Linked DNA regions of Homo sapiens. The protein of the gene in region 1 interacts with the protein of each later gene in a pairwise test. Each region holds a gene or a part of one and is shown in the gene's direction. Other genes may lie near its edges.

Region 1 (7,844 bases):
ATGTTCCTAAGTGGCTGTACCATTTAGCATTACCATCAGCAATGAATGAGAGTTCTTATTGCTCCTTATCCTTACTAGCCATTGCTATTATCATTTTTATGTTTAGTCATCCTTATAGGTGTATAGTGGCATTGCATTGTTGTTTTAATCTGCATTTCCCCTAAAGTAAATGATGTTGAACATCTTGTCATGTGCCTATTTGCTATCTATGTGTCTTCTTTGGTAAAGTATCCATTAAAATATTTTGTTCATTTAAATACATTTTTTTTTTCAAATTTTAGAGATGGGTCTCCTGTGTCTCAGGCTGGAGTAGAGTAGTGAGATGATGGCTCCCAGCAGCCTCAAACTCCTGGGCTCAAGGGATCCTCCCACCTCAGCCTCTCAAATAGCTAGGATTACAGGCGCATGCCACCCACTGCGCATGGCTAATTTTTTTTTTTTTTTGTAGAGATGTAGTCCTGCTTTGTTGCTCAGAATGGTCTTCATCTCCCGGCTTCTTGGGCAATTCTCTCCTCAGCCTCCCAAAGTGCTGGGGTTACAGGCATGAGCCACAACCCCCTGCTACTTTTGTCCATTTTTTATTTGAATTGTTTATTATAGTTGAATTTTTTTTTTTTTTTTTTTTGAGACGGAGTCTCGCTCTGTCACCCAGGCAGCAGTGCAGTGACGTGATCTTGGCTCACTGCAAGCTTTGCCTTCCAGCTTCATGCCATTCTCCTGCCTCAGCCTCCCGAGTAGCTGGGACCACAGGCGCCTGCCACCATGCCCGGCTAATTTTTTGTATTTTCAGTAGAGACAGGGTTTCACCATGTTAGCCAGGATGGTTTCAATCTCCTGACCTTGTGATCCACCCGCCTCGGCCTCCCAAAGTGCTGGGATTACAAGCGTGAGCCACCGAGCCTGGCCTATTATAGTTGAGTTTTAAGAGTTATTTGTATATTTTGTTTACAAGTTCTTTGTCTTCTTATTATCTTAACAGAGTTTTTCACAGAGCAGAAATTTTTAATTTTAATTAAACCCAGAATATCAATTTTTATTTTCTTGCATCATGCTTTTGGTGGTGGTGTAAAATCTCAACACCAAACTCAGACTCATGGAGATTTTGTCTTCTGTTTTCCCCTAGAGGTTTCGTAGTTTTGCATTTACACTTAGGTCTGTAATCCATTTTGAGTTAATTTTTCTGTAAGATCTGAAGATTAAAAAAATAATAACTTTATTGACATATAATTCACATACCATACAATTCACCCACTCAAAGTATACAATTAGGCAGGGTGCAGTGGCTCACACCTGTAATCCCAGCACTTTGGGTGGCCAAGGTGGGAGGATGGCTTGAGTCCAGGAGTTCAAGACCAGCCTGGACAACACAAGGAGACTACAATTCTATAAAAAATAAAAAATTAGCTAGGCATGGTAGTGCCCACCTGTGGTCTCAGCTACTCAGAAGACTGAGGTATTGCTTGAGCCGGAGATGGAGTCTCACTGTGGTGCCCAGGCTGGAGTACAGTGACGTGTCACAGCTCACTGCAGCCTCGACCTCCTGGGCTTAAGCAATCCTCCCACCTCAGCTTCTTGGTTAGCTGGGACCACAGACACGCACCACCATGCCTGTCTAACATTTTTTTCTTTTCCTACTCATGCTTTTGGTGTCATGTCTAAGAATTTATTGCCAAATCTAAGGTCATGAAGATTTACCCTTATCTTCTAATAGTTTTATATTTTTAACTCTTTTAAGTCTTTGATTAATTTTGAGTTAATTTTTGTATATGATATAAGGCAGCAATCCCCAGCCTTTTTGGCACTAGGGATTGGTTTCATGGAAGATCAATTTTCTATGGGACGGGGATGGAGGATGGTTTGGGGATGATTCAAGCACATTACATTTATTGTGCACTTTATTTCTATTATTATTACATACTCACCATAATGTAGAATCAGTGGGAGACTTGAGCTTGTTTTCCTGTAACTAGATGGTCTCATCTGGGGGTGAGGGGAGATAGTGACAGATAATCAGGCATTAGATTCTCATAAGAAGCCCACAACCTAGATCCCGTGCATGTGCAGTTCACAATAGAGTTTGCACTCCTATGAGAATGTAATGCCACCCCTGATCTGACAAGAGGCGGAGCTCAGGCCATAATGCTCACTTGCCCCACCGCTCACTCCCTGCTGTGTGGCCCAGTTCCTAACAGGCCACAGACTGGTACTAGTCTGTGGCCTGGGGGTTGGGGATCCTTGATGTAAGGTCAGGGTTCAACATCATTTTTTCCACTCTGGTGTCAGAGGTAGGGACAATGATGCACCTCTCTCTGAGTGACATCACCATGTTAGATGCTGAATGTTTCTGGCAGAAGCACTCAAAGCAGTCCCACGTTTCCTGACTTCTTTCTCGATGAGCCAGAAGCAAAGGTGATCAAGGCCCAAGTACACTCAGTGCTGCTGTGGCCAAGGTACAGCCTCCAGGTACAACTGGGCAGAAGAAGGGAGCCCCCACCTCTGCCATACTTGCTTAGAACTTAGTCTCAACAACAGGTAGCTGCGGGGAGGATGACAAATGCTGATGTTTTGTCCCTCCTAGGAAGCTGACCCTCCAACTGGGAGCTGAAGGGTGAGGGAGCCCTGTGTTCTTGGCTGCACCAGTATAGCGTGGAGCCCTCTCTGAGTTGGAAGCATGAAAAGAGTGAGTAGGTCTTGGTTCAAATACCTCAAGCTCACTTTTCTTACTGGGTTTCAGTAGGTTTTCTTGAATAAATGTTCCTTCATTTGTTGTGCACCTTTAGGACCATTTTTAGAAATTTAAATGGTTGCTTATATATAAAACATATAATTTTCACCAGTTTTGCTTTGAGCTGGGTGTACAGGGCTTCTCATGTTGTTATGCCTCTGTGGGTTCTGTTTCAATAACTTAAAGTCAGTGAGAATGTGGACAGTGGAAAACCACACAATTCAAAGTCCAGTGCTCACATAGTAATTTAATATGCACACACGTATCAACTATGAAAATGGCTCAGAACTAAATACGGATTGGGTTGACAGTAACTAAAGTAGGGAGTCCTGCATGGTTAGACCTCCATTCCCCATAAATTCATGGAGTATCTACTATATGGAAGGTATAGGAATAGAAGATAAACCGCTAAAAATTCTGAAAATTAGGAGATTTTCACAAAAACAGAACTAACAAACTAATAAGCTAAGGCAGCCTATTCTAAGTGCCCAGAGAATACATGCTCCAGTTTTTCAGAAGCACAAGAATTATGTGGGACTGGAGTAGTCAGATAGGATTTCTGTGGAGGAAGCGTGAGCTGAGTCCCATTTAGAAGAAAGGTAGGATTCAGCCGGGTGTGTAGGTTGTTGGGAGGGCATATTCCAAGGAGGCATTCCAAAGCAGAAGAGCTCAAATGTGATTGTATTTGGAATACTTGGGTATTGATGACTAGACCTGCCTGCTTGCTGGAAGGTTTGTATAGAGAGATCAAGATGGAGAAATGAGATGGAGAGTGATCAGAAATGCAGGAGAGGCTGAGTTGTTGGACCATGGAGTTTGGACTTTATCTTAGAGAAGAGTGACTTGGGCAAGATATTTTAGGAAAATGGTTTTGCCTGTAGTGTGTAGATGGAATGAAATCTCTGCGTGTGTATGTGTGCATGTGCATACGTGCACATGCACCAGGAAGCCTGGAGGCAAGGACATTAGTTATAAGATTGTTACAGAGGTTTGGATTAAGTGAAGGGATTAGGAATGGAAAGGAAGTGTCTGGTGGATGGTAAGATATAACCAGGACCTCAATAAAGCCAAGCAATTATTAAAACAAGCATGGTAGTTGTGTCCATAAACATAAAGTCCTAGAATGCAAGCTGATTTAGCGATTTGAGATAGTAAGTATATTTTAATTTAAACGGAGTCTCTTTATTTTTGAATTTGCATATACTTTTCTTCCCTCTTCTTATTCCTCTGTCAATACCTCGCACTTATTCTTCCTTTCCGCAATCCCTCTCTTTTAATTTGATCACAAATTAATCTCTTGTATGTATTTACAGGAGGAAACCAATGGCAAACGTTGTGTATGGTTGCAAGGATGAGTTTCTCCCCCTTGAAAATATCCATTCGCATAGAAATGGGAGGCACAGTGACCAACTCTTGCTTCTTAGCAGGTCTAACATGACCTTCAAAACTCCGTAGGACATACTGGTCTTTGGCGGGGCAGCATCTCCCGTCAGACTCAGGCTGGCTGGGTTTCTCACAGCTGCCTGGATGTGTGTGACTCGCAGCTCTAAGGACAGAATTGCCAAAGCAATACAAAAACACGGACGAAAAGCAAGCCACAAAACCCCATGCCTTACACATTAGGCTGATGAGTGAAGTCGCGGAAGGTGGCTCTGCTCTTGCCCTTTTAAAATTCCAGTGCAGCAAACACACACACACACACCCGCTCGGTTCTTCCCATTCCCGCCACACTGCACCAGCTTCCGTCCCCAAGTCCTGATTCATGAACCGTGCCACCTTTGTCTCATTTTAAACTGTGCAGACTATTTTAATCTTGCCACCCCCATCCCAGATTTCCCCCTCCCTTCATCCTCTGGAAGCTCTGATGTAAAGCGCTTGCTAGGTGGGAGAGCGCTTCTCCCAATCCGCTCGGGTAGGCGAGTTTCCGAGAAGCCCCCTCCCCGGGACCCCGCCGCGAGCGCGGGGGAAGCGCCTCGGTCCCTTTAAGGTGCCGCGCTCTCCGAAGTGCGGGCAGGGAGCCTGGGCGCCGGCGCGGGTCCTGGAGCCGGGTGGGGAAGTCCTGCGCCCTCCCCCTCCGTCCGCAGCCCAGCCTCGGGGGCCAGCCCCCTCCGCCCACCGCACACGGGCTGGCCATGCGGCGGCTCTGAACGATGTCCTCCTCCTCCTACGCCAAGAACGGGACCGCGGACGGGCCGCACTCCCCCACCTCGCAGGTACCGCCCCCTCCTCCCCCTTCTCCTCTTCCTCCTCTTCCTTCCTCACACCTCCTCCGCCGCCCTAGCGCGCCCCGCCTTCGTGCCGGGCGTGCGGGGCCCCAGTCCCGGGAGTCGGCGGCCCCGCTCCCCCCACCCCTCCTCCACGTCCCTTTCTCCTCCCGCTCCTCCTCTTTCTCCTCCTTCTCTTCCTCCTCCTCCTCACCCTCCTTCGGGTCTCTGCGCTCCCGCTCCGGAGCCCGCAGCCTCCCCCAGCGGATGCCGGGGACTCGGACCCCGCACCCTGAGAGTCTTTGTTAATGGATGTGGTGGGTGCTTGCGGGCTGCTCTTCTCGAGCATCTTTTCAGCAGTCGAGGCTTGCAGTGGGTGGGTGGGGGTGGGGGCTGTATTTGGGAGTCGCGGAGGAGACTTGGGTGCGGGCTCTAGGGGACCCCAGGGAGCGGGTCCGGAGGCGGACTCCAGCCGGGGGTGGTCGCCCCGCTCTGCGCTGCGGTCCTCACCGGCTTCTCTCTGGCCCCCGTGTGTCGAGTCCAGGTGGCCCGAGGCACCACAACCCGGAGGAGCAGGTTGAAAAGATCCGATGGCAGCACCACTTCGACCAGCTTCATCCTCAGACAGGTATGAGAAGGAGGCGGGAGACCAGGATGGGGAGGAGGCCGAGCGCGCGGCGCGGGGGTCCTGGAGCCGGCCGTGGCCCACACGTGCGGGAGCTGCGGGTCAAGCCCGCGCGCGTCTCTTCCCGGCCTCGGCCGGTGCTCGGGCTCAGTCCCTCTCCCTCTAGCCTGGGCTCTTGACGTCTTCGCGTCCCGGCGTCTCCGCACCGCCCCGGGAAGTTAGTTTGTGCATGTGTGTGGACAGTTCGGTGGGGACCTGGCTTAAGTCAGGGACGTTGAATTTAAGAGCTGGAAATATGTCTGGTTGTATCTTTGGTGCGTGGAGAAATGTCTTTAATTCGTATAACTCGACCTAGAGTAACCAGACCCCTCGGGGCCGGGGACCTGGTTTGATTCGAGTTGAGATTTAGTGGTTTCTTCTGTTTTGTCCTAATTTGAATACTCTTATCTGTCTGGATCTTGGGAGAGATCGTCAAGCTCCGGTCAAAAGAAAGACACTGAGCAGAAAGTTTACTCTCACTTTAGGACCGCTTCTTGGATTCGCTTAGTTAGGGAAAGACAGCTGTATCTGGTTAAATAGGAATTAACGAAGGCCAGCACTCAGCTCCGGGTCTGGGTGCGCCTTCACTTCGTGTTTGTTTTCTTAGTGCTTGCTTTCTCCTGCGTGGTTCTAGTGCGAATTGTCTGTGCTCGGGATCTCCGGATCGCTGGTAATGCTCAATGCTTAGGTGCCTTTCACCTTGGCACAGGAAATTGGTCCTCAGTTTTCCAACTGTCCATGTGCTGTTAATGAAACCACCCCTGGCTGCTGGGTGCTAGAGAGATCATGCAATGAGTCACCTTGATCTTTCTTTGGAACAGAAATTGTCGGGGTGTGTCCTAGGTTTCGGGTGACCTAGGAAGACATTGGTCATCGCACCAAGAGGCTTTTATCCCAGGTCTTCCTGTGGGCTGCTGGAGTGACCTTGAGAAGTTCTTTTCCCTCTAGGTCACTCAGTATTGTGTAATGTGTTTTCTAACCTATGATGGCAGCTCTGGTGTTTCTTTAGTGATTATCATCAATTTAAACATATCAACGAGGAATTGATATCAAAATTGAACTCAGACCTCTCCTAAAAGGGTCTATAAAGCATATTTAGATGATATTTATTATGCAGAATTTCACTTTCTGCAGAAGCGGAAATTTTGACTACCATTTAATTCAGCGAGCACTAAGCATGTACATTATGGAAATAAATGCATTTTGGATTCCGAATTCATTCTAAAAGTGCATTCTATCCCCTTTGCAGTATTTAGATTATGTATTTGATAAGGCAAACATATTGTTTATCTTAAAAACATTTTTCTGTTATGCAACTGTTTGAGGTCTTGCTGGTGTTTATTTTGTAGGTGCCTATTTTTAGTGGTGTTTCATTGTTGCAAATTCTTGGAAATACTAATTACACAGCAGTTCTTTCCATAAGCTGTTTGACTAAAACTTTTGAGTTCATCTACATAACTGCACTAATGCTTTATTCTTCCTTCCAAGCACAAACAAAATAATATTCTAATATTCTTACTCTTTTCTCAATTTATGCCCGTAACTGATTGAGATGATGTATATATAAGTTCTTGTAAAGCGTGCTGCTATGTGCTGGCTTAAGAAATGTTAAAAGTATTGCATGCTAAATAATTTTGGGAATAATTTAAAGCAAAGTAGATTTTTTTAAATAAATATATTTCATCTATGAAATGGGAATTCATTGGTTTGATTAAATGGTCTAATTTAAATTCAGGAGTTAATTGTAATTGTATTATATACACAATCTTATTTTTCGGCACAAAAATAGTACTTAATTTTTTTCTTTTTTCAGACGGAGTCTTGCTCTGTCGCCCAGGCTGGGGTGCAGTGACGCAGTCTCTGCTTACTGCAAGCTCTGCCTCCTGGGTTCACGCCATTCTCCTGCCTCAGCCTCCCGAGTAGCTGAGACTACAGGCACCCGCCATCACGCCTGGCTAACTTTTTTGTATTTTTAGTGGAGACAGGGTTTCACCGTGTTAGCCAGGATGGTCTTTATCTCCTGACCTCGTGATCTGCCCACCTCATCCTCCCAAAGTGCTGGGATTACAGGCGTGAGCCACCATGCCCGGGCTACTTAATTTTTATGAGCACTTTACAACTCACTGAGTATACTACACATGATCTCATTCAAATGACATCATACAGACTTCTGTATTGGCTACAATAAAAATAACTGAGGGATTTACATTTCTTTGATGAGATAAGGAAAATGATTACAAATGCAGTTTAA
Region 2 (7,028 bases), on another chromosome or scaffold:
ATTTCTATACCTATTCTCAATATAAATTCCTACATCTCTCCCTCAGGCCAGAGGACCCTTTGCCACCAGAGTGAGATCCTAGAGACCATCATCCTGGTAAATCCCAGTGCAGACAGCATCAGCTCTGAGGTAAGGCCAGGGCCTGTGCCTTGCCAAACAGGCCTGGTGCAAGTGCTATACCCACCCTTGCCAGTGCTACCACTATTAGGCCAAGAATTCCTCTCTCTGCCATCTAAGCTGACGTATTGTCTCCAGCCCACTCTGGAGGTGTTATGAGGGACATAAGTTGGGAGCATGTTCTTGAGGTACTGAGGGGCCATTCATTGCCTTTCCCTGGATTTCCTATATCTGTGACCACTCCCCTTCTTCCATTCCAGGTTCATCATCTTCTTAGCAGCTCATCAGCTTATAAACTACTAATCTTGAGTGGGCAAAGTTTAGAGCCTGGGGGAGACCTCATCCTACAGAGTGGCACCTACTCATATGAAAACTTTGCCCAGGTCCTTCACAACCCCGAGGTAAGTTCCATGCCAGAGTGTCTGGGAGAAAGGGTAGCACTAGAGCTGTGGGAGGGATCTAAGGGAAAGTCTCATATTGCATGACCATGGGGGGCCCTGGCAGAAAGGTAAGAGTCCACCTTGGAAAGAGGTGAAGATTAGGGTACTGAATCTAAGTCAGACCAAAACAACTCTAGTGACCTGATCAGGTTTCTATCTCCTATTCTTCTAGATTTCCCAATTGCTCAGCAATAGAGACCCTGGGATACAGGCCTTCCTTACCGTGTCCTGCTTAGGGGAAGGTGATTGGAGCCACCTGGGATTATCCAGTTCCCAAGAGACCCTGCACCTCCGGCTAAACCCTGAGCCCACTCTGCCCACCATGGACGGCGTGGCTGAGTTCTCCGAGTATGTCTCTGAGACTGTGGACGTGCCATCCCCATTTGACCTACTAGAGCCCCCCACCTCAGGGGGCTTCCTCAAGCTCTCCAAGCCTTGTTGCTACATCTTCCCAGGTGGTCGTGGGGACTCTGCCCTCTTTGCTGTCAATGGTTTCAACATCCTGGTGGATGGTGGCTCTGATCGCAAGTCCTGTTTTTGGAAGCTGGTACGGCACTTGGACCGCATTGACTCGGTGCTACTCACACACATTGGGGCAGACAACCTGCCAGGCATCAATGGACTACTGCAGCGCAAAGTGGCAGAGCTAGAGGAGGAGCAGTCCCAGGGCTCTAGCAGTTACAGCGACTGGGTGAAGAACCTTATCTCTCCTGAGCTTGGAGTTGTCTTTTTCAACGTGCCTGAGAAGCTGCGGCTTCCTGATGCCTCCCGGAAAGCCAAGCGTAGCATTGAGGAGGCCTGCCTCACTCTGCAGCACTTAAACCGCCTGGGCATCCAGGCTGAGCCTCTATATCGTGTGGTCAGCAATACCATTGAGCCACTGACCCTCTTCCACAAAATGGGTGTGGGCCGGCTGGACATGTATGTCCTCAACCCTGTCAAGGACAGCAAGGAGATGCAGTTCCTCATGCAAAAGTGGGCAGGCAATAGTAAAGCCAAGACAGGCATCGTGCTGCCCAATGGGAAGGAGGCTGAGATCTCCGTGCCCTACCTTACCTCTATCACTGCTCTGGTGGTCTGGCTACCAGCCAATCCCACTGAGAAGATTGTGCGTGTGCTTTTTCCAGGAAATGCTCCCCAAAACAAGATCTTGGAGGGCCTAGAAAAGCTTCGGCATCTGGACTTCCTGCGTTACCCTGTGGCCACGCAGAAGGACCTGGCTTCTGGGGCTGTGCCTACCAACCTCAAGCCCAGCAAAATCAAACAGCGGGCTGATAGCAAGGAGAGCCTCAAAGCCACTACCAAGACGGCCGTGAGCAAGTTGGCCAAACGGGAGGAGGTGGTAGAAGAGGGAGCCAAGGAGGCACGTTCAGAGCTGGCCAAGGAGTTAGCCAAGACAGAGAAGAAGGCAAAAGAGTCATCTGAGAAGCCCCCAGAGAAGCCTGCCAAGCCTGAGAGGGTGAAGACAGAGTCAAGTGAGGCACTGAAGGCAGAGAAGCGAAAGCTGATCAAAGACAAGGTAGGGAAAAAGCACCTTAAAGAAAAGATATCAAAGCTGGAAGAAAAAAAAGACAAGGAGAAAAAAGAGATCAAAAAGGAGAGGAAAGAGCTCAAGAAGGATGAAGGAAGGAAGGAGGAGAAGAAGGATGCCAAGAAGGAGGAGAAGAGGAAAGATACCAAACCTGAGCTCAAGAAGATTTCCAAGCCAGACCTAAAGCCCTTTACTCCTGAGGTACGTAAGACCCTCTATAAAGCCAAGGTCCCTGGAAGAGTCAAAATAGACAGGAGCCGTGCTATCCGTGGGGAGAAGGAGCTGTCTTCTGAGCCCCAGACACCCCCAGCCCAGAAGGGAACTGTACCACTCCCAACCATCAGTGGGCACAGGGAGCTGGTCCTATCCTCACCAGAGGACCTCACACAGGACTTTGAGGAGATGAAGCGTGAGGAGAGGGCTTTGCTGGCTGAACAAAGGGACACAGGACTAGGAGATAAGCCATTCCCTCTAGACACTGCAGAGGAGGGACCCCCAAGTACAGCTATCCAGGGAACACCACCCTCTGTTCCAGGGCTGGGACAAGAAGAACATGTGATGAAGGAGAAAGAGCTTGTCCCAGAGGTCCCTGAGGAACAAGGCAGCAAGGACAGAGGCCTAGACTCTGGGGCTGAAACAGAGGAAGAGAAAGATACCTGGGAGGAAAAGAAGCAGAGGGAAGCAGAGAGGCTCCCAGACAGAACAGAAGCCAGAGAGGAAAGTGAACCTGAAGTAAAGGAGGATGTGATAGAAAAGGCTGAGTTAGAAGAAATGGAGGAGGTACACCCTTCAGATGAGGAGGAAGAGGACGCGACAAAAGCTGAGGGTTTTTACCAAAAACATATGCAGGAACCCTTGAAGGTAACTCCAAGGAGCCGGGAGGCTTTTGGGGGTCGGGAATTGGGACTCCAGGGCAAGGCCCCTGAGAAGGAGACCTCGTTATTCCTAAGCAGCCTGACCACACCTGCAGGAGCCACTGAGCATGTCTCTTACATCCAGGATGAGACAATCCCTGGCTACTCAGAGACTGAGCAGACCATCTCAGATGAGGAGATCCATGATGAGCCGGAGGAGCGCCCAGCTCCACCCAGATTTCATACAAGTACATATGACCTGCCCGGGCCTGAAGGTGCTGGCCCATTCGAAGCCAGCCAACCTGCCGATAGTGCTGTTCCTGCTACCTCTGGCAAAGTCTATGGAACGCCAGAGACTGAACTCACCTACCCCACTAACATAGTGGCTGCCCCTTTGGCTGAAGAGGAACATGTGTCCTCGGCCACTTCAATCACTGAGTGTGACAAACTTTCTTCCTTTGCCACATCAGTGGCTGAGGACCAATCTGTGGCCTCACTTACAGCTCCCCAGACAGAGGAGACAGGCAAGAGCTCCCTGCTGCTTGACACAGTCACAAGCATCCCTTCCTCCCGTACTGAAGCTACGCAGGGCTTGGACTATGTGCCATCAGCTGGTACCATCTCACCCACCTCCTCACTGGAAGAAGACAAGGGCTTCAAATCACCACCCTGTGAGGACTTCTCTGTGACTGGGGAGTCAGAGAAGAGAGGAGAGATCATAGGGAAAGGCTTGTCTGGAGAGAGAGCTGTGGAAGAGGAAGAGGAGGAGACAGCAAACGTAGAGATGTCTGAGAAACTTTGCAGTCAATATGGAACTCCAGTGTTTAGTGCCCCTGGGCATGCCCTACATCCAGGAGAACCAGCCCTTGGAGAAGCAGAGGAGCGGTGCCTTAGCCCAGATGACAGCACAGTGAAGATGGCTTCTCCTCCACCATCTGGCCCACCCAGTGCCACCCACACACCCTTTCATCAGTCCCCAGTGGAAGAAAAGTCTGAGCCCCAAGACTTTCAGGAGGCAGACTCCTGGGGAGACACTAAGCGCACACCAGGTGTGGGCAAAGAAGATGCTGCTGAGGAGACAGTCAAGCCAGGGCCTGAAGAGGGCACACTAGAGAAGGAAGAGAAAGTTCCTCCTCCCAGGAGCCCCCAGGCCCAGGAAGCACCTGTCAACATTGATGAGGGGCTTACAGGCTGTACCATTCAACTGTTGCCAGCACAGGATAAAGCAATAGTCTTTGAGATTATGGAGGCAGGAGAGCCCACAGGCCCAATTCTGGGAGCAGAAGCCCTTCCCGGAGGTTTGAGGACTTTACCCCAAGAACCTGGCAAACCTCAGAAAGATGAGGTGCTCAGATATCCTGACCGAAGCCTCTCTCCTGAAGATGCAGAATCCCTCTCTGTCCTCAGCGTGCCCTCCCCAGACACTGCCAACCAAGAGCCTACCCCCAAGTCTCCCTGTGGCCTGACAGAACAGTACCTACACAAAGACCGTTGGCCAGAGGTATCTCCAGAAGACACCCAGTCACTTTCTCTGTCAGAAGAGAGTCCCAGCAAGGAGACCTCCCTGGATGTCTCTTCTAAGCAGCTCTCTCCAGAAAGCCTTGGCACCCTCCAGTTTGGGGAACTAAACCTTGGGAAGGAAGAAATGGGGCATCTGATGCAGGCCGAGGATACCTCTCACCACACAGCTCCCATGTCTGTTCCAGAGCCCCATGCAGCCACAGCGTCACCTCCCACAGATGGGACAACTCGATACTCTGCACAGACAGACATCACAGATGACAGCCTTGACAGGAAGTCACCTGCCAGCTCATTCTCTCACTCTACACCTTCAGGAAATGGGAAGTACTTACCTGGGGCGATCACAAGCCCTGATGAACACATTCTGACACCTGATAGCTCCTTCTCCAAGAGTCCTGAGTCTTTGCCAGGCCCTGCCTTGGAGGACATTGCCATAAAGTGGGAAGATAAAGTTCCAGGGTTGAAAGACAGAACCTCAGAACAGAAGAAGGAACCTGAGCCAAAGGATGAAGTTTTACAGCAGAAAGACAAAACTCTGGAGCACAAGGAGGTGGTAGAGCCGAAGGATACAGCCATCTATCAGAAAGATGAGGCTCTGCATGTAAAGAATGAGGCTGTGAAACAGCAGGATAAGGCTTTAGAACAAAAGGGCAGAGACTTAGAGCAAAAAGACACAGCCCTAGAACAGAAGGACAAGGCCCTGGAACCAAAAGACAAAGACTTAGAAGAAAAAGACAAGGCCCTGGAACAGAAGGATAAGATTCCAGAAGAGAAAGACAAAGCCTTAGAACAAAAGGATACAGCCCTGGAACAGAAGGACAAGGCCCTGGAACCAAAAGATAAAGACTTGGAACAAAAGGACAGGGTCCTAGAACAGAAGGAGAAGATCCCAGAAGAGAAAGACAAAGCCTTAGATCAAAAAGTCAGAAGTGTTGAACATAAGGCTCCGGAGGACACGGTCGCTGAAATGAAGGACAGAGACCTAGAACAGACAGACAAAGCCCCTGAACAGAAACACCAGGCCCAGGAACAAAAGGATAAAGTCTCAGAAAAGAAGGATCAGGCCTTAGAACAAAAATACTGGGCTTTGGGACAGAAGGATGAAGCCCTGGAACAAAACATTCAGGCTCTGGAAGAGAACCACCAAACTCAGGAGCAGGAGAGCCTAGTGCAGGAGGATAAAACCAGGAAACCAAAGATGCTAGAGGAAAAATCCCCAGAAAAGGTCAAGGCCATGGAAGAGAAGTTAGAAGCTCTTCTGGAGAAGACCAAAGCTCTGGGCCTGGAAGAGAGCCTAGTGCAGGAGGGCAGGGCCAGAGAGCAGGAAGAAAAGTACTGGAGGGGGCAGGATGTGGTCCAGGAGTGGCAAGAAACATCTCCTACCAGAGAGGAGCCGGCTGGAGAACAGAAAGAGCTTGCCCCGGCATGGGAGGACACATCTCCTGAGCAGGACAATAGGTATTGGAGGGGCAGAGAGGATGTGGCCTTGGAACAGGACACATACTGGAGGGAGCTAAGCTGTGAGCGGAAGGTCTGGTTCCCTCACGAGCTGGATGGCCAGGGGGCCCGCCCACACTACACTGAGGAACGGGAAAGCACTTTCCTAGATGAGGGCCCAGATGATGAGCAAGAAGTACCCCTGCGGGAACACGCAACCCGGAGCCCCTGGGCCTCAGACTTCAAGGATTTCCAGGAATCCTCACCACAGAAGGGGCTAGAGGTGGAGCGCTGGCTTGCTGAATCACCAGTTGGGTTGCCACCAGAGGAAGAGGACAAACTGACCCGCTCTCCCTTTGAGATCATCTCCCCTCCAGCTTCCCCACCTGAGATGGTTGGACAAAGGGTTCCTTCAGCCCCAGGACAAGAGAGTCCTATCCCAGACCCTAAGCTCATGCCACACATGAAGAATGAACCCACTACTCCCTCATGGCTGGCTGACATCCCACCCTGGGTGCCCAAGGACAGACCCCTCCCCCCTGCACCCCTCTCCCCAGCTCCTGGTCCCCCCACACCTGCCCCGGAATCCCATACTCCTGCACCCTTCTCTTGGGGCACAGCCGAGTATGACAGTGTGGTGGCTGCAGTGCAGGAGGGGGCAGCTGAGTTGGAAGGTGGGCCATACTCCCCCCTGGGGAAGGACTACCGCAAGGCTGAAGGGGAAAGGGAAGAAGAAGGTAGGGCTGAGGCTCCTGACAAAAGCTCACACAGCTCAAAGGTACCAGAGGCCAGCAAAAGCCATGCCACCACGGAGCCTGAGCAGACTGAGCCGGAGCAGAGAGAGCCCACACCCTATCCTGATGAGAGAAGCTTTCAGTATGCAGACATCTATGAGCAGATGATGCTTACTGGGCTTGGCCCTGCATGCCCCACTAGAGAGCCTCCACTTGGAGCAGCTGGGGATTGGCCCCCATGCCTCTCAACCAAGGAGGCAGCTGCCGGCCGAAACACATCTGCAGAGAAGGAGCTTTCATCTCCTATCTCACCCAAGAGCCTCCAGTCTGACACTCCAACCTTCAGCTATGCAGCCCTGGCAGGACCCACTGTACCCCCAAGGCCAGAGCCAGG

Evidence for each region.
Region 2: the proteins of CACNB4 (region 1) and MAP1A interact in a two-hybrid assay, tested with the Homo sapiens proteins (one study listed by IntAct).

Annotation. Positions count from the first base shown.
Region 1 is NC_000002.12:152,096,043-152,103,886, reverse strand, and holds the start of CACNB4 (voltage-dependent L-type calcium channel subunit beta-4), read left to right. Parts: upstream 1-4,842; 5' UTR 4,843-4,875; coding exon 4,876-4,938; intron 4,939-5,123; exon of another isoform or gene 5,124-5,237; coding exon of another isoform or gene 5,238-5,246; intron 5,247-5,473; coding exon 5,474-5,557; intron 5,558-7,844. UniProt on the Homo sapiens protein: The beta subunit of voltage-dependent calcium channels contributes to the function of the calcium channel by increasing peak calcium current, shifting the voltage dependencies of activation and inactivation, modulating G protein inhibition and controlling the alpha-1 subunit membrane targeting.
Region 2 is NC_000015.10:43,520,595-43,527,622, forward strand, and holds part of MAP1A (microtubule-associated protein 1A), read left to right. Parts: intron 1-46; coding exon of another isoform or gene 47-129; intron 130-377; coding exon of another isoform or gene 378-518; intron 519-729; coding exon of another isoform or gene 730-879; coding exon 880-7,028. UniProt on the Homo sapiens protein: Structural protein involved in the filamentous cross-bridging between microtubules and other skeletal elements.